3 separate regions of the Homo sapiens genome follow, and all the other regions are linked to region 3. The links come from fine-mapping of genetic effects on gene expression. A gene starts in region 3. Each other region holds a variant in brackets. All regions are shown on one strand. Distances are between the middles of the regions.

Evidence for each region.
Region 1: its variant is fine-mapped to the expression of FSTL4 in whole blood (INTERVAL, PIP above 0.99).
Region 2: its variant is fine-mapped to the expression of FSTL4 in whole blood (INTERVAL, PIP 0.98).

Annotation. Positions count from the first base shown.
Region 1 is chr5:133,523,530-133,531,707 of GRCh38, reverse strand. All of the region lies in intron 3 of FSTL4 (follistatin like 4), which reads left to right. Among named protein-coding and RNA genes, the nearest start is that of FSTL4, 85 kb to the left of the region's middle. RefSeq lists an enhancer at 6,388-6,888. The variant C/T (reference allele first, on the strand shown) is at 5,027.
Region 2 is chr5:133,236,103-133,244,280 of GRCh38, reverse strand. All of the region lies in intron 7 of FSTL4 (follistatin like 4), which reads left to right. Among named protein-coding and RNA genes, the nearest start is that of FSTL4-AS1, 16 kb to the left of the region's middle. RefSeq lists enhancers at 1-474, 3,196-3,696, 3,487-3,766, 3,697-4,197, 7,797-8,178. The variant C/G (reference allele first, on the strand shown) is at 4,937.
Region 3 is chr5:133,608,254-133,616,406 of GRCh38, reverse strand. It overlaps FSTL4 (follistatin like 4), which reads left to right and starts at 3,866. Exons shown (of 16, transcript NM_015082.2): 1 at 3,866-4,082. RefSeq lists a silencer at 5,135-5,184.

The DNA of each region.
Region 1 (8,178 bases), 85 kb after region 3:
GACTGGCAATTGGAGAAGGATCATCTTTCCCTTTCTACTTTCTCATTTCACACTGATTTATTGCAAGTTGTAGCTCACAGTCTTAGCAAATGAAACAATTTGTTGCTCACTCCATCGCTGTTCATTCCCCAGAGCTGAGAGGCCTGCTTAGAAAAATGTTCTTTTAGGGAACAAATGCAGTGTGGAGGGGCTTGGCTGCTGCCAGTGTGGAGGGATCCACACTCCACACTCAGCTCTGGCCCTCAGTCTTTCCAGGGGATATTCCACGGCAGAAGTAGGACGCTTAAGGCCTCATGAGTCATGGGTAAGAATAATCCTGAAACTCATGATGTGGGTCCCTCTCTGACAAGGTGACCACAGAGATTAGGGCCAAAGTCAGGGCCCCAGACATCTCACTTCCTCCCCTTTCATGCCTCACTCATACCACTGGGGGACGGGGTCAGCACATTCTTCCAAAGAGGTGCCTTGTAACAATTGCTTTAAAGGAACATGTTGACAAGAAGGTTGCTAAGATTTCGATGGAAAGATGTTGAAAGAAACCGTGTGAAGAGAGCATCCCATCAATGATCAGCCAGTGAGACACAAGGAGGGGTCAGTCCGTGTGTCTGAGCCCATCCTTTTCTGCATTCGCTCTCCCGGCAAAGAAGAATATCGGCCCTATCCAGGGCCGAGCCTCATCTTCAGTCCCACCTTCTAGATGTGAGTCTGGCCCATGTCCAGTCTGGGCACAGCCTACTGTGGTCCAGGCTTGCGCAGCATTTGGCACTGGGGCAAGATCCCATATCAGAGTCTGTGGGTGTTAGAGGGAAAGACCACGGAGAGCCCACTCAGGGCCTGTGTGAGTCTGAGTCTCTGGCCCAGCTCAGCCTGCCAGGTCTCTGCACTGGGGTGTGGGGCCTGGGTATAGCCCTTAGTTAGGGGTTTCTTGGCCCTCCTCTGTCAATGTGCCTTGTTTATCTTGGGGCTCCATGGTGAAGGGTCCCTGTTGTCGGGGCAGGGTCCCTGGCCATAGGTCCACCTAAAAGTGGCACAGCCACACAGCAATTTCTAGCTGGAGGAGATGAGGTTCTCTTTCTAGCTAAACTCATATGTTCTCCAGGACACATGCAAGATATTATGCCTGTGTCTTATCTTCTTCCTCACCACAATCTCCTTGAAGGCAGAAACTAGATTTGCTTCATTTAAGCTTATTTACTTGTCTTTGTCTTCAAGGCACCTAGGCTAGTGTTGAGCACACAATGCATGTCACGTGACTGAGGATTACACGTGGGCCCTGAGAACTGCTCCATTGTGAATGTCCCTGAGCAGGCAGCGAAGGTGCTGAGGTGGGCACCTGGAGTCCAGCAAGGTGTTTTTAACCTGCTGTAACCTTGAATTCCAGCATGAGTGGGGAGGCATTTCTGCGGCTCCTAACGGTGCTATCCAGGGCCGCAGTGCTCTTGGCTCATGCTGCAGCTTCAGAAGATGCTGATTTGCTAGTTTTCCCTGAACTGTTTTTTCTTCTCTCTGAGATCAGTGATTCCCACCGTCGGTTTTACAGCACCCCAGGGTGTCTCCAGCTGTCTCAAGGGCTGGCACAGAAGTCTCAAAACCATTTGCTTCAAACAAAAAACAAATACACAGAATACAGCAGTTTTAGCTGAATTTGGAGGCAGGAAAGAAAAAAAGTCTAACAAAATCCAAACAAGCAAATTGGGTGTCACACTCCAAAAAGCTGGACTCGCTGCCTTAGAAAAGAGAAATGGTTACACAAAGTCACGTCTTCATGTACTGGTTTGGATCCGTGTTCTGAGGACTGCTGCACAAATCCAATCAGACAGGACGCTTAAAAAAAAAAAAACCCGAAACATTTTATTGCTTTATTTTCCTTTCCCATAGAAAATAAATATTACACAGATGAATAGCAATATACAAAAAACCATTCAACAGAGTTCTGAACCAGCAACTCTGAAGGGTGAGTCTTCAACGAAGCAGAACTTTACCATTTGCTGAGCCTCTGTTTAGGAGAGGGTTTAGAACCAGAAATGCCCTGTCTGGGTTGGGGATCTTTTAGCTCCTTGATCAGGCACCAGGGAGGCAGTGTTGTCTAATTATCCTCATCTATAAAATGGAGATGATAATAATCATACCTCATAAAGTTAGGAGAATTCAATAAATTAAAATTTATGAAAATCTTAAAACAGAGGTTGGTGCATAGTAAGCATTATGTCAGTGTGTGCTCAAGAAAGCATTGGGAGCCTGCAATGTACCAGGCCTGGTGCTAGCTTGGTAGGTTCCTGGGCTGACTGTTTGTGTCTGGGTTGGTTTTTGTCTCATAGGGAAGACAGAGAAGGAGACACCTGAATAAAATACCTTGTGATGAATGCTAGTTCCCCACAGAGTCATGTGAGGATTCTTAATTAAAACATGGATTCTGGTGCTGGCATTTGTTGTTAATATTTTGGGCAAGTCATTTATCTTTTCTGAGCCTTTGGGTATTCACAGGGAATGCTAGGTTCCAATAACAAATAGTCTCCATGATTTCAGTGGCTTCACACAATGGACATTTACTTCTTGCTCCAGGAACAATTCTGAGCAGGTGTTCAGATTGTCAAGGCAGCTGTCTTCCACATGGCCATTCGTGGATCCAGGCTGACAATGGCTTCCAAGATTACCCTGGGGATCAGCATCCCAGGCAGCCGGAGCAAGAGCATGGAGGCTCCCCCATGCCTGTGGGACGTTCTCATGGGCCAGACCTGGAGGTGGCACTGCTCACTGCCATGCACATTCTCATGGAGGAGACTTAATCACATGGCCACATCTAATGGCAAGAGAGGCTGGAGATAGCGAACAGCTCTGTGTCCAAACAAGAACAGGTTTTACTAGACATCTCAATTTGTTTATTTCTAAAATATGAGGTGGTATCCCTGCCATGCTGACTTACACGGGTTGTTGGGGGAACCATGCACTATAATGGATATCAAGTCACCTGGGATGGAAGGAGCTGTGTGGACAAGGGAGTTGTTGGCTGGGAACAGTGGCCTTGGCCTGCAGAAGAGTGGGGCAGGGGTTCTGCTGGTGTCTCAGCAGCACAACTCAATTCAAAAAGTGTTCACAGAGGAGCGTGCCAGGCTCTGCCCTGGGTGCTAGGGATGTAGTCATCCCATGACAAGCTCAGGGAGGAGGAATCACAGTTCAGCGTGACATGTAGCATGAGAGCTTGCATGTGGTGTCGAATCCAGACGCGGTGGTCAGGACATCCTTCCCAAGGACAGGGCATCTAACCAGAGAACAGAAGGAGATGGCCCAGTGGGGCAGGGTGGGGCAGGGGCCAGGTGGAGGGAGGGTGTTTAAAGCAGAGAAAATTCCATGAGAGCAAGAGAGCATGGCTTGAGTTAGGAACAAAAACTCAATATGAGCAGATGTTAAATGGAGGAGAAGAAGCCAAGAGTTACCAGAAAGGTTGGCAGAGCTTGTAGGCCATAGTGAGGCCTAATGGGCAGCTCACCTTTCTGTGGGAAATCCCCCCTTTGTTAAAGGTGACTTATTTCTTAGAGCCATAATAGTGTGTCTTTGAAATTGTTACGGAAACAGCAAGAGGGGACATGGCATTTTACCTGCAACCACATTCCACCTGTTCCACTGTGTACACCTGAACCAAATCCCTGAAATGATAACACTTATCAAGGTTATTCTGTGGTGCTTGGGCTAACCCTGATGACCAGGTTCACCCTCCTTCCCAACATAGGCATCTGGCTTGGAGGAGCTAAATTAATAAGATTTGTGTCTTAATAACTTGCAGGTGAGTGCCCAGTGTTCCTTGGGGGTGGGAAGCCAAGCAAGGCCAAGGCTGCCATGTGGGGTGGCTGACCCCTGGATATCAGGGGGGTTACTTGGACTCTTTTGTCTGGGCCCAGAATTGACATAGCTGTCTGGGCCAGGCACCCTGCTGGTTATCACTCCATAGCTCAGTCTGTGTGTGATGTGTCTTTTGCACCTTCACCTTCATGTTTCCAAATAAGGAAAAGTGCAATGGAGAGAAGGGGAGAATATTTCTATAATGTGAATGACTCTTGCTACTCTGAGTTCCCTCAGCTGTTCAGTTTATAATTCTTATAGGATCAGTTCAGGCCTGCATTTCCAGGGATGATGCTTGGCTGTTTAACAGCATTTTATGTCTGGAATGCTTATAACATCGGTCAGTTATGCAGTGAATGCACTTATGGGTGTGTGTGTGTGTGTGTGTGTGTGTGTGTACACGTGCACATCTCAGAGCAAAAGAGATCACAACTGAGAGGCTGAGAGAACAGACACTGGCTAGCCCTGCCTGATTTGGGGGTGAACCCTGGTCTTCATGAGGAGTCAGAAGCAGTTTCTAGTGAAAGTAGCATGTCTCTTTGAGGCATAAAGCTTCACCAGTCTTCTTGGAACCTTGACTAATTTTTGATTCTCTGGTTCCATGAGCCAAGCATTATACTAAAATATACCCCTCAATTTGCAGAGAAGTGGAAGGTGTTCAAACACAGAATCAAAATAAAGGATAATTTTCCATCTTCTGCTGAAACCTCTCATTTTCCAGCAATGTAGAAACAAAACAAGAGACGAGAGGACATGTGGGGACTGAGAATGAGTGCATTAGCAGTCTTTTGGAGATACCCACACAGACCTGATGAGCTTCTCAGGACAGAGGGCTGCACTCAGGATTCATCCTCATCCACAGTGATTGTGGCTGTGTGGACTTACACAACTGGCAGCTTGCTGCCAGTTGCCGCTCTGTTGGGTAGGAAAAAGGAGGACTTGGAAACTGCCTCCGGAGAGCCTTTTGGAGGTGAAGGAAGTTGGCTGGCAACTCTGTCCACTCAAGCTCAAAACTTCAGCCCGTTCACCAGCTCCTGTTGGTCCAAGTCTGAATTGTCCAGGTTGGCCGACAAGTTCTGCTCCTTCTCCTGTTTCGCATTCATCCCATCTCCTCCTGCTACTCCCATGTGGTCAAAGTCCTCATCCCCAGCTCCCTGCAAAGGCCTCCCCATGAGCCTCCCTGACCCTG[C/T]CTGCATAGCGCCACTTCACAACTCGTCCGCAAATGTTATCTTCTCACCACTGGCCAGCTCAGTTGGGGTTGGAGTGTGTGTGATAAGCTAATCCACGTGGAGATCTAAATGGCCTCCAGGGGTCATTAGGAACCCTCACTTTTTTTCTGCCCAAATTTCAAGACCATCCGTGGGGGATCCTTACCCTACCTCTCCAATAGGAGTCGCACCCTAACCCAGCAAGTCCCCTTCGTTCTGGCTGTACATTTGGGCTTTCCCTATTTGTGAATGGATTCTCCTCTTCCTCCAAGACCCAGCTGAGATCTCATCTCTGCAAAGACTTCTCAGTTCCCTCCTGTTCACCTTCTTTCCCTCAACACTCAAAACCCACCCCTCATTGTCCAGTGCTTGATAATGAGGCTACCCCCTTGGTTTCATGAATTGCTTCATCTCCCCAGCTGTATAGTGAAGAGAATAAAAATAGCCACAGTGTATTGATCATTTACCGTAGGCCTCATAAATATCATGGCATTTAGTATGTCCAATAACTGTGTGTGATAAGTATCAATGTCTCATTGTAGTTAGAAAATCACAGTGCTAGGTATCAAAGCTGTTCATCTGTTAAAGTCGTGCTTTCCTCAGGGCCCTCAGTGTGTGTGTCCCGTGAGAGGTGCTCAGTAGACAGTTGAGAGAATAACAAGCTGCTCCGTCTCCCCCATGACCCTAGCACCCAGCACAGTGCTGAGCATGTAATACATGCTCAACTAATATGTCTTTGACAGACATATTTGAAGGCATAAAGAGCTAGGAGAATATTGACAGTTCCCACTGGCTGATGGAGTAAACCAGGGCTTCAGGAGTCAGTCTAGAAGTCCAGATTCTGGTCCGAGTCCTGCACTGGTCAGCTGAGGGACCTCGGGTCCTGCTCACCCCAAGACTCAATTTCTTCATTTGCATGACAAGGGCTTGTGCACAGGTTCTGTGAACTCTGGAATTCTTGATGCTTTTACTCATTCCCTGAAGAGGTTAATTAGGACGAAGTGCTCTTTAACTGGCAATTACACTGCTGCGATATAGCTTGTTTAGTGAGGCCGGCATCATTGCCAAGGCCAGGACGGTTTCTGATGATCATTTGCCAGTCTCAGGAGAACAGAGACCGTGAGGAGACTGCTTAAGATGAATAAGAAACTCCCCCCACTCACCATCAAATGAGAAAGCTATGGATCCAGAGCTGGGGAACACCACTGGGCAGGATGGTTTCAATGCCCCTAATTTAGCTTGCTCTAATTCTCCCTAAGCAGCTCTTTCTCAGTGGGAAACAAAGAAGCTGCCTTTGAGTGGGAACTCTGTGTATCCTTGTGAGGTAGAAGTCAGGCACAGGCTAACCAGACATGGACTTGGGCAGTGCAGGGGGAAACAACCCAGCCCTCATCAAGCATCACGCTTGGCTTGGCCAGCTCTGTTTGGGGTGGAATGTGCGTGATAAGCGAATTCACATGGAGATCTAAATGACTGCCAAGGGTCATTTGCATTTCTAACCAAAGGGATACATAATTAATGGTAGCTCTTGAGACATCAAACTGACATATCGACTGTGGGCCTGTTTTGCCAGAACAGCGGAAAGGCTGGGGCACCCGTCTGCTGGGAAGACTCCATGTAACAGGGTTAAAAAGGTAAAGTTTCAGAGGACTTTCTGATCCATGAAGTTAGTGGTGCATGTGTCTGTTCAGGGACTCCTCATCTAAAGCATTTACAGACATATTAGCAAGATTAGGTGACTCCAAAGGGCTGTGAGGAGGACTGAGTACAGTGAGGCCAAATTCAGTCCTGAAACCTAACATCTGCCAGTGCATCTGAGTGGGTGCCCAGTGGGTGGCCTCACTCACTAGCTGGGCCAGGCAGCGGGATGGCTGCCTTTTGTGTGCAGAGGCCCATGGGGGCTGTCTGTTGGTTGTGATTTTCCTGGCTTTAGCGCTATACGTTTGAATCACTGCAGTATTGTACAACCCACCCAGGGGCGGGGTGGGGGGTGCATTTCTGGAGGGCCCTCTATGCACCTGTTAGTATTGCAAGTACGGGTCCAAAGAGACGCAGCTTGGAAGAAGCACACGTTCTGTGGTGCCCCTGTCTACAGCAGGCTTCTCTGCGCGAAGTTGTTTTAGCCCTCTGTTCTGCAAGTTACAGCATCTTGAATGAGGCAAAGTGACACACGGGCAAATGGTGTGTATTCCCTACAAACTCCTCAGAGTTGACACCGCTCTCGCCTTTCTTCTTGCATTGCCAGAGGCTGTGACTCTGGCTCTTCACTCTTCAGTCATCACAAAGCCTTTTCCCTTTATCATGTCAGACCTTGGAAAACCCACAGTCATGAAAATGATTTATCTTCCTAAATTGTCAGTGATCTCCCATTAGGCTTAGGATAAAATCCAATTTCTTCCCAGGCCTCCAAGGGCTTGTGTGATCTCACCTCTGCCTGCCTGTCTCCGTTCAAGCCCGTCCATCTCTCTCTCCAGCTTCCCATGCTCCAGACACGCTGACCTGTCCTCCTTCTGCCCCTCAAGCAGGACACACCTGCTCCCACCCTGGGCCTGTGCACATGCTGTGCTGTCCCCTCTCCCTGAGCGGCTCCCCTCGGATCTTTTGTGACTGCTGCTGTCTCATCTGGTGTCTCCCAGATGTTAACTTCCCAGAGAGACCACCACTGACGTTCCTGTCACAAGGACACCCGTCTTCCCTGCCCACCTGTGACTTTGTTTTAGCTTCTTCACAGCAATTGTTATTATGGGAAATTGTCTTATTTATTGTTTAATGTCTGTACAGTGGACTAGGATGTCGGCTCTAAGACAAAAATGTCCTCTCAGACTTGGTATTTTAAAATGTGTTTCAAATTTACAATTGTAATAAATGGGTAACATAATAAATAATAAATTGTATATTAGGTCCCTGGACTGCTGTTGAATGAATGAATGGCAACAATGATAGGAGTAGTTGCTGTTTATTGAGTACCTGTTATGTGTCAGGCTCCACATTTAATCATCACACCAAACCCAAGTGACCAGTGCTGTCAACCTCACTTTACATATAAAAACATATTAAAAAAAACCAAGATTCACAAATGTTACATGATTTTCACTTTTGTAATAGGCGTAACAGCCTGGATTCAAGCCCAGGT
Region 2 (8,178 bases), 370 kb after region 3:
GCCTGTGCTTGTGTCTGGTAGAAGGGGAGACTTTGCCCCCAGCCCCTGCTGTGGGGCCCCCACAAGGGGCCATTCCCTGGTGAGATTCCCCTGTAGCCCCTGTCTCCTGGGGACTCAGGTCCAGGCTTTGGGGGCTGGGGTGAGACCCATCTCAGAAGCAGATCCACACATTCCCTCCCTACTCTGGCCCCCATTCTAGGTATTGGGGTTGGGAAGGATGGGGTGCTGCCTCACTTTCTGCAGAAACAGAACATGCAAACCCATTCTGGGCCTCAGCCCTCTGCTTCTCTGACCACCCAGCCTGCACAGCGGCCACTCGGAGGGTGAAGTGACTGTCCCCAAACCTAGTCGGCACATCCTGCCTCAACAATGTCACCCACCCTTCATCTCATAACTGTCTTCCTCACTGTCCTTTATGATCCTGAGGGCCAGGAGACAGGAACGGGCAGAAACAGGGACAGGGCATCTCAAAAGTCACAGGTAATGGCTGTTGGGTTGAACCATCACAAGTGTTGTTGCCAGTGTTGTTACCATTCATACACGGTGCAGGCTCCGTGCCGGTTGTGAGGTCATAAGCATCAGCTCATCCCATACCCCTGCCCCATGAGGCACGTGGGGTTAACTCATTCAGATGAGTGGAGAACTTGCCCATGGGCCTACAGCCACCTACATGCCCTGGCCCAGAGCTCTCTGGGTTTCTTGCTTGTGGGACATAATATCTAGCCCCCAGCAATTCCAAATCTTTGCTGTGGGGCTGTCTGTAGTTCCCAGGCCCCAGTGGAATGTATCAAATTGGATATGGGTCCCTGTGTGTGGAGCTCCTATTCTTACTGGCTGCTGGCCTCTGGCCCCAGCAAGGAAGGAAGCAACATGCTCTGAGACCAGCACGTGGAATTGTTTAGCCAGGATATTCTCAGGGAGAGAAAACATTTTTCTATTGTATTCTTTTTTAAAAAAACAGAAAAAACAAAAAGGCCTACAACAAACTCAGTATATTTCAAATGACTTGAAAGAGCCACTCTTTTTTGTTTTGGGTTTTTTTTTCACTGAATCTCGCTATTTGGGGCTTTCTAATGTCGGCAGGCAGAGTACGGTGATAAAAGCAAAAAACAAAACCCATTAGAAGAAAGTATTTGTGGCAGTGTTTGAAGGATGTGTTAAAATGTTCACTTTTCTCCCCATACCTAAATGGTATAAAACCAGGAACAAATAATTCTAATGAAGCGTATGCTCTCAGCTAGCTCTTCTTTGGAAGGGAGTTATTAAAAAGACCAAAAGAAAATGATTTAGGAGCTCATGACTCATTTAATTTTTATTGTCTTTATATGAACCAGTCATGAATTCATTGTAAAAAGATGAGAGGCGTTTGATTAGCATGGAGAGCTGTTTGCACCACGATAGACAGTGGTTGTAGGCTCTGCATTAAAATAATCTCATTAAATGCTTGGGTACATTTTGTTTTAAAATCTTAGAAAACACTACATTTGAAGCACTTAAAGGCTTTGGCCAATTCTCTGTAGCTTGTGTCAAAAACATCTGAACATCCAGTTCTTTAGAGTTTTGAATGTGCTCAAACCATTGGGAGTAGTGTCCAGAGATCTCCAAGATATGGGGGCCGGGGCCTATGGTACTCCAGCCTGTGGAACCTGTGGGGTGACTCTGCCCTGCCAAGTGTCTCCTCTGGCCTTTGCTTTCTCAGTGCCTCTTTCGAGGTCCTCTTTCCCCTCTTAGGGGAAAGCCTTAGGGGAAGCCCTGGCCTCAGGGCTTGACTTGTACTCAGTGACCACTTCCGGCCCCATCTCCAAGGTACAGGGTCCCACAGGAAGGTTCTGATTCAGCTTCTATACCCTGATTGCAGAACCCAGGAACTCCCCACAGAGTCTCTTCCTCCCTGAGCCTCACTGCCTCCCTACAGAGGCCCAGTCAATGAAGGAGGCCGATTGGTGCCTCTCTTGGCCACTACAGATTGGAGCCTACCCCTCCAAGGCACTCTCTGCACTAAGCAAGGACAAGGGAGTCACCAGGAGGTCCTGCAGCCCATGAGCCATGCCCAAGCACTGCTCTTCCTGGACTCCCCCTCCCCAGCCCCATGCAGCTGTTTCAGGTTTTGTCTACAGCAAACAAGACTGCAGTAAACATCCTTATACCCACCTCTTTGCACATGTGTGTAAGTTGACGTGTAAGATAAGTTCTCGGAAGTGATGCATTTTCAGTTTTGATGGGTTTTGCCAAATCTCTCTCCAAAATGGCTGCACCAGTCTACGCCCTCTCCAACAATGTGTAAGAGTTTTGAACACAGTGTCAGGAGGAAATTCCTAACTGAAAGTCGTCTTGGTCCCTGAAATGAGCCATAGAAGGAAATTTATTTAAATCCTCTCTGGAGTGTCTCAACGACAGGAATCAGCTGTCATGGCTGTGAGTGTGGTCCAAGTTAGAGTCAGGAGCTGAAACCCTTGGTAAGGCCTTCTCAGCCTGGGGATTCAGGATCCAAGGATCCCCAGGAAGAGGGTTGCAGGTTTCCCAAAGGAAAGCAGCAGGTGTGAGGTGGTCTGGAACTTCAGATGACTGCTACAGTGCAGTCTAGAACCTGAGTCCCTTCCCGCCCCAGCTGGGGATGCCAAGCTAATTAGCCAAGGAGCCAAAGCCCCATTCAAGGGCTCAGGCCTGCACCTCACCAGAGGGCCCCATTAGCTGCCACCCCTACTACATAACACTCTGGAGTCCTGGCATGTCAAGAGGTATTTGCCTGCTGGCCTCTAAGGGTGGACAAGTGGAGGGCTCAGAGCAATGTCTCTGGCATGAGCCTTCTGTTGCAGGTGCCTGGGCCTCTGTGTATACCCAGATAATCAGGTTTGTCCCTATACGCAATTTCAACACGCATACCACTAGGTCAGAACTTCCCTATTTGAGTTTTTGAGCCAACTGAAGTTGGCTCTTCGACAGAAGACACCCTCACTTCTGACATAAACTGGAAGTCAGGTGGTTCCCAAAACCACCCTCAGGTTCAACAATTTGCTGGAAAAACAGAACTCATTGTAAGTGTTATACTCACAGTTAAAGTTTAATACAGCAAAAAGAGTACAGATTAAAGTCAGCCAAGTGATGAAGCCCAAAGGGCAGAGCCCAGGAGGGCTCTAAACGTGGAATCTCTGTTCTCCTCTCCCAGTGGAGTCACAGACATGTCACTGTCACAGTGTCAATTTCCCAGAGAAGCTCACCCAGGCCTCGGTGTCCAAAGCTTTTGCTGGAGCTCATTCAAATACTGCCCACATGGCTGCCCTCTCGTCCCCAGCCCCTCTAGAGACAGAACTGGTACCACCTGGCCCAAAGACCCCAGGCAAATAAAGAGACCCCTATGAGGCATGACATTCCAGAGCCTAGAGATTGCCTCCCTGTAGCCAAAGAGGGCAAGGCCAGACCTCCCTGGGTAATATGAATTCTTAACTATCCTTCCTCTCAGGGCTTCCCAGGAGGTAGCATCCTAGGCTAACACACTCCCTGAAATCAGCAAATATTCATTGAGCTCAGTTATGCACAGGAACCACATGACACGCTGAGAATAATACAGTCATGCACAAAGAGATGAGTCATGCGCGAAGAGATGAGTCATGCGCTAAGAGATAAGGGCCTCCCCTTTGGCATCCACAGTCAGAAGAAGACTGACCGCACACACCAGAGGACACCCAAGTCAGCCAGGGACCACACATGCCCCGAGCCTTGGAAGAACCAGGTGCTCTCCCCACAGTGGCTTCTCTCATGCCTCCAACTCCCTCTTCCAGGCCTGAACCTGGGAACGAGCAGGAGGACAGGCCCACTCCAGGTTGCTCACACTGAATGCAGCTGCCCACAACAGCCCTCTTCCAGGGGGCTCAGACAGCTACTTAGAGATTGCTCCAAGTTGCAGAGACTTCTTTTTCTTGAGAGGACTCTGAGAAAAAGGATGGTTCCTCAGGTCTTTGCAGGATGGCAAGTCCGTCTATTATGTCCGGAATTGGTGGGTTCTTGGTCTCACTGACTTCAAGAATGAAGCCGCGGACCCTCGCAGTGAGTGTCACAGTTCTTAAAGGCAGCGTGTCCAGAGTTTGTTCCTTCTGATGCTCGGATGCGTTTGGAGTTTCTTCCTTCTGGTGGGTTCGTGGTCTCGCTGGCTTCAGAAGTGCAGCTGCAGACCTTCAGGGTGAGTGTTGCAGCTGATAAAGTCAGTGTAAACCTAAAGAGTGAGCAGCAGCATTTATTGCAAAGAGCAAAAGAACAAAGCTTCCACTGCGTGGAAAGGAATCCCAGCGTGTTGCCACTTCTGACTCCGGAGGTCTGCTTTTATTCTCTTATCTGGCCCCACCCACATCCTGCTGATTGGTCCATTTTACAGAGAGCCGATTGGTCTGTTTTACAGAGAGCTGATTGGTCCGTTTTGACAGGGTGCTGATTGGTGCGTTTATAATCCCTGAGCTAGACACAAAAGTTCTCCACGGTCCCCACTAGATTAGCTAGATACAGAGTGTCCACACAAAGTTTCTCCAAGTCCCCACCAGAGTATCTAGATACAGAGTGCCGATTGGTGCATTCACAAACCCTGAGCTAGACACAGGGTGCTGATTGGTGGGTTTACAAACCTTGAGCTAGATACAGAGTGCTGATTGGTGTATTTACAATCCCTTAGCTAGACATAAAGGTTCTCCAAGTCCCCACCAGAATAACTAGATACAGAGTGCCGAATGGTGCATTCACAAACCATGAGCTAGACACAGGGTGCTGATTCGTGTGTTGACAAACCTTGAGCTAGAGACAGAGTGCTGATTGGTGTATTTACAATCCCTTAGCTAGACATAAAGGTTCTCCAAGTCCCCACCAGACTCAGGAGCCCAGCTGGCTTCACCCAGTGGATCCTGCACCAGGTCTGCAGGTGGAGCTGCCTGCCAGTCCCGTGCCGTGCGCC[C/G]GCACTCCTCAGCCCTTGGGTGGTTGATGGGACTGGGCGCCCTGGAGCAGGGAGCAGTGCTCTTCTGGGAGGCTCAGGCTGCGCAGGAGCCCACGTTGGCAGGGAGGGGGGTGGGGGTGGGGGAGGCTCAGGCATGGCGGGCTGCAGATCCTGAGCCTTGCCCCGCAGGGAGGCAGCTAAGGCCCGGCAAGAAATCCAGCGCAGCAGCTGCTGGCCCAGGTGCTAAGCCCCTCACTGCCCGGGGCTTGCCGGCTGGCAGCCACTCCGAGTGCGGGGCCCGCCGAGCCCATGCCCACCCGAAACTCACGCTGGCCCACAAGCCCCTCGCACAGCCCCGGTTCCCGCCCGCGCCTCTCCACACCTCCCGGCAAGCTGAGGGAGCCAGTTCCCGCCTTGGCCAGCCCAGAAAGGGGCTCCCACAGTGCAGCGGCAGGCTGAAGGGCTCCTCAAGCATGGCCAGAGTGGGAACCAAGGCCGAGGAGGCTCCGAGAGCGAGCAAGGGCTGCGAGGGCTGCCAGCATGCTGTCATCTCTCACTATGAGGGACTAGAATGAAGTGAATGTCGCCGTAACCTCAGTGTTGGTCGGGAAGGTCAGCACTAGGGAGCCAGTATGTTGGTACGTGTGTGCACTCATGCGTGTACATCATCATGTGTACCACGTGTCCATGTAGATGTTTGGGTGCGCTCCCTCCCCCATGTGTGCACACTCGCATGTACTGCATGTGTCCATGTGGATGCCTGTGTGTGCTCACCCACATGTGCACACTCGCATGTACTGCATGTGTCCATGTGGATGCCTGTGTGTGCTCACCCACATGTGCATGTGGTCCTGGCTTGGTCTGGATAAGGGCCAGGGAAGTCTAGACGTGTTCGAGGAATGGCCATCACCGAGGCACCACATGTCACTCTGTGTTTAAGTTTGCTGCATTTGACTGTGCAGGTGAGATGCTACAGTTAGTGGCATTCTGGGGGCCAGAATTGAAGGATTGTTGGGGGAGAGACCCCCCCTTTGCTCCCTCCTCCCACAAAGAGAACCAGGGGTGCTCCTGAGGAGGGCAATGTCGGAAAAGCTCTGAATAATTGTTTCTCAACTGAGTCTGAACTTGTAACATTGACAGTATCATTAACCTAAACTCTAATATTACTCTGGAGTCCTTGCGTTGAACATTTAGTCTCTAAATATTCAGTATTGATGACTCATTTCCATATATACCTGACTCCCATGGATCACTATGACAACATCCCCCATCTCATCTCTGCTTAACTATTGTTTAATACTTAAGTCTCATTTAATTGTGTTCTTTATTAAGGGCAGATACTTAGAAAATCGCTTTTTAAAAGGTGAGAACCATGTCTTTAAAATTGTCTCTTTCCCAGAAAACAGATATGCATCAATACAAAGAATGGTCTAATCTGACATCTGTTTATTTCTGTAAGGAACCTTGATTTTGCTAATACAGTTCTATGCATCAGAGCAAAAAAAAAAAAAAGCCATCCATAAAGAGACAAGTACAGAGATGCAATCAAGCGTTGATAGCAGTATTCAGATGCATCTCAAAGAACATTCAGGAGAGGAAGGATTGCAGGCTTAGTTTTATGTAGCTTCTTATAAATCAATTGTTAAAGTAATTTTCTCTTCTCACATCCAATGAGGTAAATTTGATTTCTGTAGCCAGTATTCATATCCAGAAAACAATATGCGCTTTGTTCTGTAATTATATGATGCCTATCATTTTCACCCAGAGACGTTATTTTACTTATTACAGAGTCAGCTTCTCCTCCGAGCTGAAGCCACAGACAGGTAATGCTTAGGTTCTCACGGAAGAGCCATAACACACCCAGGAGCCCCTCAAGTCCTCCAAGGGCTGACACACACACCCCTCAGCACCTGAGTGATTGCCCAAGAGTTAAGTCTCTGCTCCTGGGGAGCAGGGATGTGTACTTGGTAAGCAGGAAAGAAACAGACAGTGAGGTTAAATGACTGTGTTGGAGGCACAGCACAAGTCATCAGTAGCGGGTGGGAATCCATGCGCGATGGGCTTTTCCATCTCTTCCTGCTGCTCTGAGCTTTGGTCAATTCCAGCGTGCCCCAGCCTGAGGAGTGCAAAAGAGCCTCGAGTTCTCCCGAGGGCTGCAGGACGGAGAAGGGGACAAGTGGGGAAGTGGGGACGAGACTTGAGACCAGTGCTCTGCTCCTCCCGCCAGCTGCCTCATTTTGAGCCTGTGTGGCTGGGTAATATTTGAGTGGACAGGAAGGCAGGTGGGCACCTCGGCTGTCAAACTGAAAGAATCCCCTCAGAAAGCCTAGCTCGGTGCCCTGTACAGTCCCCTCGACAGCTATTTTTTGAGGGCCCACTGTGCACCAGGACTGTGACAGGCACACAGGGCACAAGCCTCCCTGCCCTCCTCTGCAGAGCTCACATTCTGCAGGGGAAGACAGACAGCAAACAAGGTAAGTACAGAAAGCAGCAGGCGGCACAGCAGTGCGTCCACAGGAGGCGCCAAGCAGGGTGTGGGGAAGAGGTTAGGCTCCAGAAATGGGGCTGCCAGACAAGGTTGGAGCAGACTTGCAGGAGAGGGAGACAGACAGACAGCCTGGGAGGAGGGGAGCATGCCTGGCACACTAGAGCAACAGCAAGGGGAGTGTGCGAGGCAGTAGGGTCTGAGAGGGGCTGGCCCCCAGCAAACAAGGCTCTGAGTATGAGGGGCGTGATGTGGCTGGCTCAGGGCAGAGTCTGTGGGCCGGAAGCCGGGGTCCCTGGCATCACCCAGGAAGGTGGCAGCTGGCCAGAGCAGGAGCGATGGAGGTGGTGAGAGAAGACCCCACTCTGAATGAATCTGCAAGGAGAGCCTAGTGTCTCAGCCCCTGGGGAACTGGGCTTTTGTTTTGTTTTCTGGATTGGGGTTTTCAGGGTTTTTTTTTTCCTGAGGATTAAATACATACAAGGTGACGTGTAAGTTCCCGGCACACGGTAACCTCTTGAAGACCGTATGTTGGTATTAATGGGTATCAACCTGAGGTTGATATCTGGGAACAGTGGCCTTGGGACAGCCCTCAGAGCCCAGGGCCCATCTCAACCTGAGGAATGTGGTGGTGCTGATGACTAAACACCACCACACAGGTGGTGATGAGGGCAGGGCCTGCCAGAGCCTGAGGCCAGCTTCAAGGGCCATCATGAGAAGGGGCTGTGGATGTGAAGGCTCAGGAAGGCAGTTTGGAGGGAAAATGCCAGCAGGTCCA
Region 3 (8,153 bases):
GAGGAAAAGAAAGAATGGAAGCTCCCTAAGGTAGCAGTTCACCTTTAAAATTAGATAGATAGATAGATAGATAGATAGATAGATAGATAGATAGATTTAGATTTTCACATTATTTATGATTCTATACTGGTGAGTTGGAAAACAGGGTCATGATAAAAATTATGTTGTCCCTTTCAAAGAAAGGAAATTGGCCCCTCTTTTCACTCTCCTCTTAATATGTTCCCTCTTTCATCCCTTTTGCCTATACTCAGTAGGGTATGATAGTTTGTGGCTGTAGGCCTGGCCATCTCATCCCCAATTATCCCTTGTAAACAATACATTCTTAAGAGTAGCAGACTTCAGTTTCCTCCTGTTATCAGCACCTTTCTTGGTCCCCTTGTGCCATCAATCCAGCCCCTGTGAGTTTGCTGGGAATTTGCCTTGGTAACAATGCCATGGTGAGGGTTTTATGTTCATCTCCCTCCATTTTTACCATTCACAATTCCCTTTCCATCACTGCATCTTCTCATTTATCCCAACTTCTTCATTAAAATTCCTACTCTATACCACTTCTTCTTTGTCTCGAAAAATTTCCCCAATCACAGTTGTCCCTTGAATGAATACCTTATCTCCATGCTAGCTACTTTTCTCCCTGAAATAAAGTTAAAAACAATTATGTATGTGTAATCTTAAGTCTAGGATCTTGAACTTACTGCCTACATTCCCTTAATTTCTAGGTGATTAATGAATTATCATCTTAAAAATAAGCATTAATATTAGACTTAGAGGAAAACTTCAACATCATAGCTCTGTTTAGATCAGAATAACTGAACTTCTATAAATACAGGCAAAATAAAGGCATAGACCTTTAGAACTGAAAATGGCCTTAGACATGTCGTTTAGTATGACTGCCTCCCATGTACCCATTCCCAATTCCCACTTAAGAGAAAACAAGTTCTGGGAAAGGTGTGACTCTCCCAGGCTCACTGAGCCCTAGAGGCTGAGGCGGGAGAGAGACCCCATCCTTGTGCCTCCCATCCAGGGCTCTCCTAAGCACAGGGCTGGCTCTTCAGTAAACTGCATGGTTTGGTTTGAAGATTTACAAAAACATTTTTTGAACAGGCAGCAGAACGTTAAATTATGCAAGACAAGGAAGACTCTTTCCTGCCTTTTCCCACCTTCTCACATGACTTCCCAGTCTGGCTTCTAATGGGTATTTCTAGGCACTGTTTGACCAGCCTAGTGGGGACTCCCAAGGGTAAGCTGACCCACAGTTAGTGATGCAGATACTTTTGGTTGGATCTGGAGAAAGTGCCTTGCTTCCTCCTGATTCCCATGGCTATGTGTCATCTCTGAGTATCCTGATATGCAGGTGTAATCTGAAATGTCCTAAGAGACACACATCATTTGGCAGTAGTTTTTCATTATATTGTTGTGTTTTTGGTAAGGATTAGAAATAGAAAAAAGATTTTAAACCAGCAACGTAAAAAAATATTTGGGTTGCTTAAACTTTTTGATCTTGTAAAAGTATATTAATAATGTTTTTATGTGTGTCTCTGGCTGAACCACTCACCAAAAACAGAGTGGGGCTGGGGGGCAGTAACTGGAATTTATGTTTCCTTTTAGCTCCCCTATTCCAAGCTTATTGAATTACATGAAGTTCAAAACTTAACCATTATTTCCCCTAAGAATCCTAGTTGGCTATTGAGAATCAGTATGCTTGCAAGTTCTGAAACAGGGTTTCAGGCAAATTTTGAAATTCTCAGTGTGAAATCTAGCCTATTTTCCAATTTGGGGTGTACTATTAAACAAAAAATTACACTGAGAGGTAAAAGCACAGAGCAATTCAAAGAGGTGTCAAGGTTACTGGCATCTGATGCTGCTTCCCTGGAGCCTTGTTTTATTTTGTCATTCACACTTCACCTTTCTCATTCCGAGGTGACTTTTAATTTCACTCTTATTTTATGCACAGTAGTTAAACAGCTCACTTCAGATGTTAGCATTCTCTCTAAGGAATATTCCATACATCTGGTTTGCAGCAACTACCTTCTTCTCCTTCTTTGGGAAGCGTGTAGAAGTTCAGTGCCTGTTCACTGCATTAAACAGAGCTATTTCTGATCTTGGTCAACCTATAGACCCTGATTTACATATGACCTTGAGTTACTAAAAAACAAAAAATACACAAAGTCCTGCTTTGATTATGTAATAAGGCCACTAGGTTGACTCAGGGACTTTGTGATCAGAGCTGAGAATAGAAATCTGCTTTTCCAAATACCTCATGTCTTAGAGGAGAGCCGAATCCAGCCTCTAAGCCATGGTGTACGTTCCTGACCACAGACTTAGAATTACATTTCAGAGGGAGGCACAGCACATTTCCAAACTTCCCTGCTTCCTTTTATACTCATTTTCTCTTTTCTGTTTCCCAAGATGAAAAGTGCCATCCCTTCCCCAGTCCTGCCATGGAGAATCTGGCCCCTAGCCAGCCCCAGAAGTTCAGTCATGGTGGCCTTGGCAAAGATTCATAGTCAAATCTGAGAGAGGATCACACTGGCTAGGGCCCAGGGTCACTGAGGATGTAGTAGCCTTTATCCTTCTGAGTAAAAATCATGGTATCCACATGGGAAGTCAACCAGGTTTTGTCCAACCCCTCATTTTACAAGTGGGGAAACTGATACCTACAGTAGAGATACGATTGGCTCTGCATTACATAGCTTGGCAGTGATAGAGGGAGAGCTGGACCCCAGACCAAAACTGTGTGATGCCAAGACCGCGCTGGCCCATTCACTGCTGTATCTCTAGCAACTATTAATAGCACAGTGCCTGCTGCATTGGAGGGGTTCAGCGGCAGGAAAATCTGTGGAAGGAAAAAACAAACGTAATATCTCTTTCTTCAGGTCAGCCTTCCATTATTCTTCCCCTTTTCCTTATATTTAACTAACTTCATCCTCAGAAAAATCCCCTCTGTCACCTCCCCCCGGCCAGGAGAGATTACAGAGGCATGGACAGAACACTGTTCACCTAAGCCAGGAAGGCCCCTGGTGCCCACGCAGCCAGAGCAGGAGGCAGGCCCTCAGAAAGTCTCCTGGCCATCAGCCTGGCCTGGGTAGGGGCTCCCTCCTAAGTTTCCTGCCAGACTGAGGCTACGTATGACCATTTATGGGCCCCTAGTTGTTACAAAGGTGTTTCCAGTTCATTCGGGAAGGAAGACTGATCTCAAAAGCTGCTGATGTTAAAGAGGGATTCAGAAAAGTTTGGGAGCCCCAGGCTTGGGGATGGGATCAGGATGGGGAAATATCCTGTTCTAAGGGAGAAGGGACCCTCTGGGCCCAGCTAGGTCAGGTAGGCAAATGTCACTTGGGATTGCCCCTGTATGCCCTGAATGTCTTAAGATTCTGTAGTTGGAAGAGGGAAGATTCAGAAAAGAGAAAACCTTTGCTGTTTCCCAGGTTGTTGGGTCTCAACGGCGGGGGATTTCACCCACTTTGTCCCCAGGGACAGCTCTCCTGCTGTGGTGTACCGGCCCGCCTGGACTCCACGAGCAATGGCCGCGGATTCAGAGACCCCCTGTGCGCCTGGAGAGCACAGCTTTGGGGAACCTGGCCCGGAAAGGAGCCTGGAGGAGAGCAGAGGTGAAGAGGGGCTGTCACTTGCCGAGCTCCACGCTAGCCAGAGGCAGGAGCGCTACGCTGGCCCTCCTCCCTCCGGGCCCTAGATGGCCCCAGCGCTCCGGAGTCATCGCGCCCCGCGTGCGCGCCCGCCTGCTCCGCGCACCTGCCGTGGCCGCCGCGCGGGTCTGACCGGCTGGCGGGCGGGCGGCGCGCACAGGTGGCGGCGATTGGGCAGGCGGGGCCCAGAGGGTGACGTCACGGGCTCCGGTCCCGGCGGCAGAAATAGGGCAGCCGCGGCGGCGGTGGCACAGCAGCGGGCAGCGGCGGCTCAGGGAGCTGGAGCCTCAACAGCCTCCAGCGAGCCCGGGACCCGCCGACAGCCCGAGAAACCAGCCGAAGGACGCGGGGCGGGGTCGCCGCCGCCGCCACGGGGTGCTCCCTCCCTCCCGCCCAAGTCCGGCCACCTGGTCTTCCCCTCGGCCCCGGCCGTCTCAGGTACGCGGGCGCAGCTCCCAGCGGGCGCGGGGAGGGTGCCATGTCGCTGGCGCCGCCACCAGCCGGTCCCGCTGCACCCCACTGGGGTCCTGGCGCCCGCGGCCCCGCATCTTGCTGCAGGGCCCGGCGCGGGCGCTTGCTTGTCCTTACTGCCCGCGCCGGGAAAGCCAAGTTTGCCCGCGGGGAAGGGACCGCTGGGCCAGGGCTCGGCAGGGCTACCCCGGCCAAGGCCAGGACTCGAGGAGAGGCTGGGACGCCGAGGCTCGTGGCCGGGGTCTACGGTGGGGACCGGAGTGACCCGGTTGGCACGCGGGGCGCCACGCAGAAGCGCTCGGGCCGAGCCCGCAGCTCGCGCCCGGCTCCGAAATCCTGCAGGCGCCGTTCTTGGGTTCAGGACCCCGAGCGGCCCCGGCGGAGCCAGGCGAGCGCGGCCCCTCGGCCCGGGCCCGGTGCCCTTGGCTCCGGGTTGGGGCGCCGGGCAGGCATTCTCAGCACCTCCTCCCCGCGGCTTTGCGGGGAAACTTGCGTCTCCTCGCTGCAGCCCAAAGGGCCCGCTGCGCTTCGCCTGGCCCTGGCTTCCCCGGGGTCCGCCGCATGTGAGGCTGGGGAGGAAGGAATCAGGGCACGACCCGACTCCAGGCAGCCTGCGGCGCTGCTTGTGCGTAGCCGGCCGCGGTCCAGAGTGAGCGGCCCGGGGTACCCGCTTGAACGTGTCTAGGGAGCAGTGTGTTGGGGGCGTTCAGCGTTCGGGCTGGGGGCTTGGTCCTAAGAGAGCTTGCACTGTGGATGATCTCCGCCCTCTTTGCGCCCGCAAAACAAAGACGAGTTCTGAGTTTCAGGAGGGACCTGGACGAGGCAGGCACAGCACTCTGCTTTCGGCGCCTGTCGCCTCGAGTTTGGGGACGAGCTGACGCTAGTCTTTGGGGCTCCCTGCAGCCGACAAAGCGGCGCCAACCCCAGGCCTGCCACCTGAGGACTTTGTGCCCGCAACTCTTGCGGGAGCGGAAAGCCGCCGAGGCAGTGGGGTTTCTTGTTTTCCAGAGCGCGGCGAGCCTCCGCGCGGCGCGGCAAGTGCACTAGGAGTGCGCGGGTCAGCGGGGCGGGCCCGGCGAGGTCGGTGTCGCGGCTCGAGAGCGGGTGCCGGGGCGCTGTCCAGCAGCCCTCGCTCGCGGCCGCGGGCCGCCGACACTGATGAATGGCGCGGCCACAGCCCGCCGCTCCCCTCTAGGTGTCGCTTCCGCCGAGCTTTCCTCCAGTGAAAAACAGCGCCGGCAGCTTGGTCTGTTACCTTCGTAAATTTGTTGCAAGCCTGTGCACCAGGAATTGTACTAGATGGGGCCCCCGAGATACAAACATCCGTCCAGGTTCTCTGGGCCAAACGTAAACAGAATTTCAATAGGTGGTGAAGTAACTGCCAGCCAAAATGTTCACCGGGAATGGGCCTGTGTCACAATCTGTGAGGGGAAAAGACGGATCAGTGAGCGACTAGGACTCTTCTTGAAAGTCCTAAGTTATTTTCCTACTGCCAAATTTAGGGGAAACCAGCGATGCTTTTTAATAGTGTCTTCTTAATCCTGGGAGCCAGGCGCCAGTTTCTGTGCCTGCCCCTCTGGCCCCCAGGACAGACTCTGGGTCTGGTTGGCGGGGGGTCCACCTGGGAAGGGAATGGTCGGAGGTGTGAGTGATGCAGCTTCTGAGACTCCAGAGCCACAGCAACTCTCAGGCAGGAGCTCAAGCCGGACATACGAGCAGATGCCCTACAGGGCACGTGTCTGCTTCCCATCTTAGCGTTGTGAGAAGGAGGCACTGCAGCATCACTAGACCATTTCTGCCATACTCTGCTAAATGTTCGCTTTTTCCCTCCCATCCTAGGAAAAAAAGGCACCACCCTCTCCAAAGACTTCAGACTGAGCCAAAGTTCACATAAGAAAATAGTCCACTTTGATGTAATGTATTTAAATTGCTCGTTAGAGTTGTCCTAGTGCTTTTTTCTCTCTTAGACTTTTATGATCATCCTCAATTTTTGTTGATTCTAGGAAAGCTCTTTTTCTTCTGGAAAAGGCCAGCTTGTTTTTCTGGGTATTAGGAGAACTTTTATCCTTTCGGCTGTGCCCTGGAGGTGGGTGAGGGAAGAGGAGGTTGGATTTTTCCACCATGACCAGTCAGTCACTGAGGACTTTTTTTCCTTTTACTAAGGGCCGTAGGACTTTTTAAATGTGACCTTCACGTTATGATCTTTTGTTTGACTTAACACTATATTCAGAGACTAGCATTGAATAGTCATTGTTTCATAAAACTACCTTAACTCCTACCTTGCCTTGTTTGAGTGTTTCTCTGCAAACTCAACCTTCTTGAGTTGCTTATGTGCGGTTAGTTGTGTGCTTCCTAGCTTAATGCAATTAGATATTTCAAGAGCACATCTTTCTTTACATTTTCTGTCTCAATGCATAACATAAGGCATGGAATTTCCAATAAAATAGAACTGCAATCAAGAGCATGTGGTTCTTAAGAGGTATGAGCTGAAGGTTGTAAGGATAAAGGTTATTGGAAGTCACATGTGTGTCTGTGTTAAACGTCAGAGTAAATAGGAATAGAGATTTATACATGGCACATAGAATAATGTAGCCATCTAATTTATCAAGTGTTGGGGAAGAATTAACTAATGATATAGAGTAGATAATTAATAGGAAATGCAATTTAACTTCATTAGGGCTTGCTGCAACGTTAGCTTGCTATATCTCCATGCCTAATTTCCCTGGGTTGGTGTTTTAGGGACTGTCTTAGGAAATCTGTACCACTTTCTTTTTTTCTAAAACACTCACATATCAAAACTAGGGTCGTAAGCCTTTGAGAGGTTCCCGTACAGCCTCCTGGTTTCACGCTGGGGTTGATGTGGCTTTTTTTCCCCCTTTAAATTTGAGCAGACATGCAGAAGAGAATTCCACGTTGTATTCAGTCAGTATTTGGAATTCCAGAATCCCAGTTGATTTTTATATGTTGATTGCCAACATGCCATGTATGAAATGCTACACACCTACAGTGTGTGTAGGGCAGACACTTTTTCATTTGGAAAGGTTGAGAATGCAGATGCTTCAGGGTCACAAATCTGACTGTTCTCTTCAAGGCTGGGTGGCATTGCTTGGTTCTGCCAAATCATCTTTGTAATTTCTGGTCCTGTTGATTACAAAAAGAAGCCATTTCTGTATGGCTAATCCTTAATGGCTAGTCTGGTAAAGTTACCAAGTTCTGGGAGAGAGGCTGAGAGAGAGAATGGATGAACAATGCCACCGAAACTCTGAGGGCCAGAATTCCCATTCTTCCCAACAGGGCTGTTTCCTGGAATAGAAAGAGAAGTTTGTATTAAACCCATTGCCAGTTTAATGGGATTGCTTCTCTCTGGCCTATGAACTTGGTCAATAAAGACAGCTTACATGCCTGTGTGCGTTCTCTGGGTGGGGCAGATTTTGGTATTTTCATATGAATACCTATTTCTCCCTAACAATTTGCATTCCTATTTCATGCTTTTTCAGCTTTCTTCAAAAAGCAAGTCAGTATTTGGAATGTTACATCATACTAACCTGTAATACCTCTGTAATTCTAAATACAGATAAATAATAGCACAGATATTAGCTTATTTTAGAACACCTGAAAATCCTGTGGTTTTCACAAGGAGGTAGACAATCTAGTGGAGGTCCTTCAGCATTGAGAAAAGCAAAATCTGCCTATCTAAACAAAGAATCCAAACTCCCACTCTAGATGTAAGTGTGCCATAATATAAGGAACCAAACAGTTGCCCTGGGGGCAGGATGCCTGGGTTCCAGTTTAGGCCTAGCCACTGATTTGTCCTTGAACCTGGGTGGATTCGTCCACCTTCTGGTCTTCTGGTGTCCTATCTATGCGGCAGCCAGGTTAGCACCAGGTTCTCCTGACTGGGGGAATGTCTGTTGAAGCTCTGGTAGGAAACCACAGGGGAAGCAATGAAACACCTCCCTTCCAAACAAGATGGTTAAAGCATCAAGTCAGTGTACTTTATGACTTGTTTGGAACAAAAGGTAGTCTCAGCTCTTTATA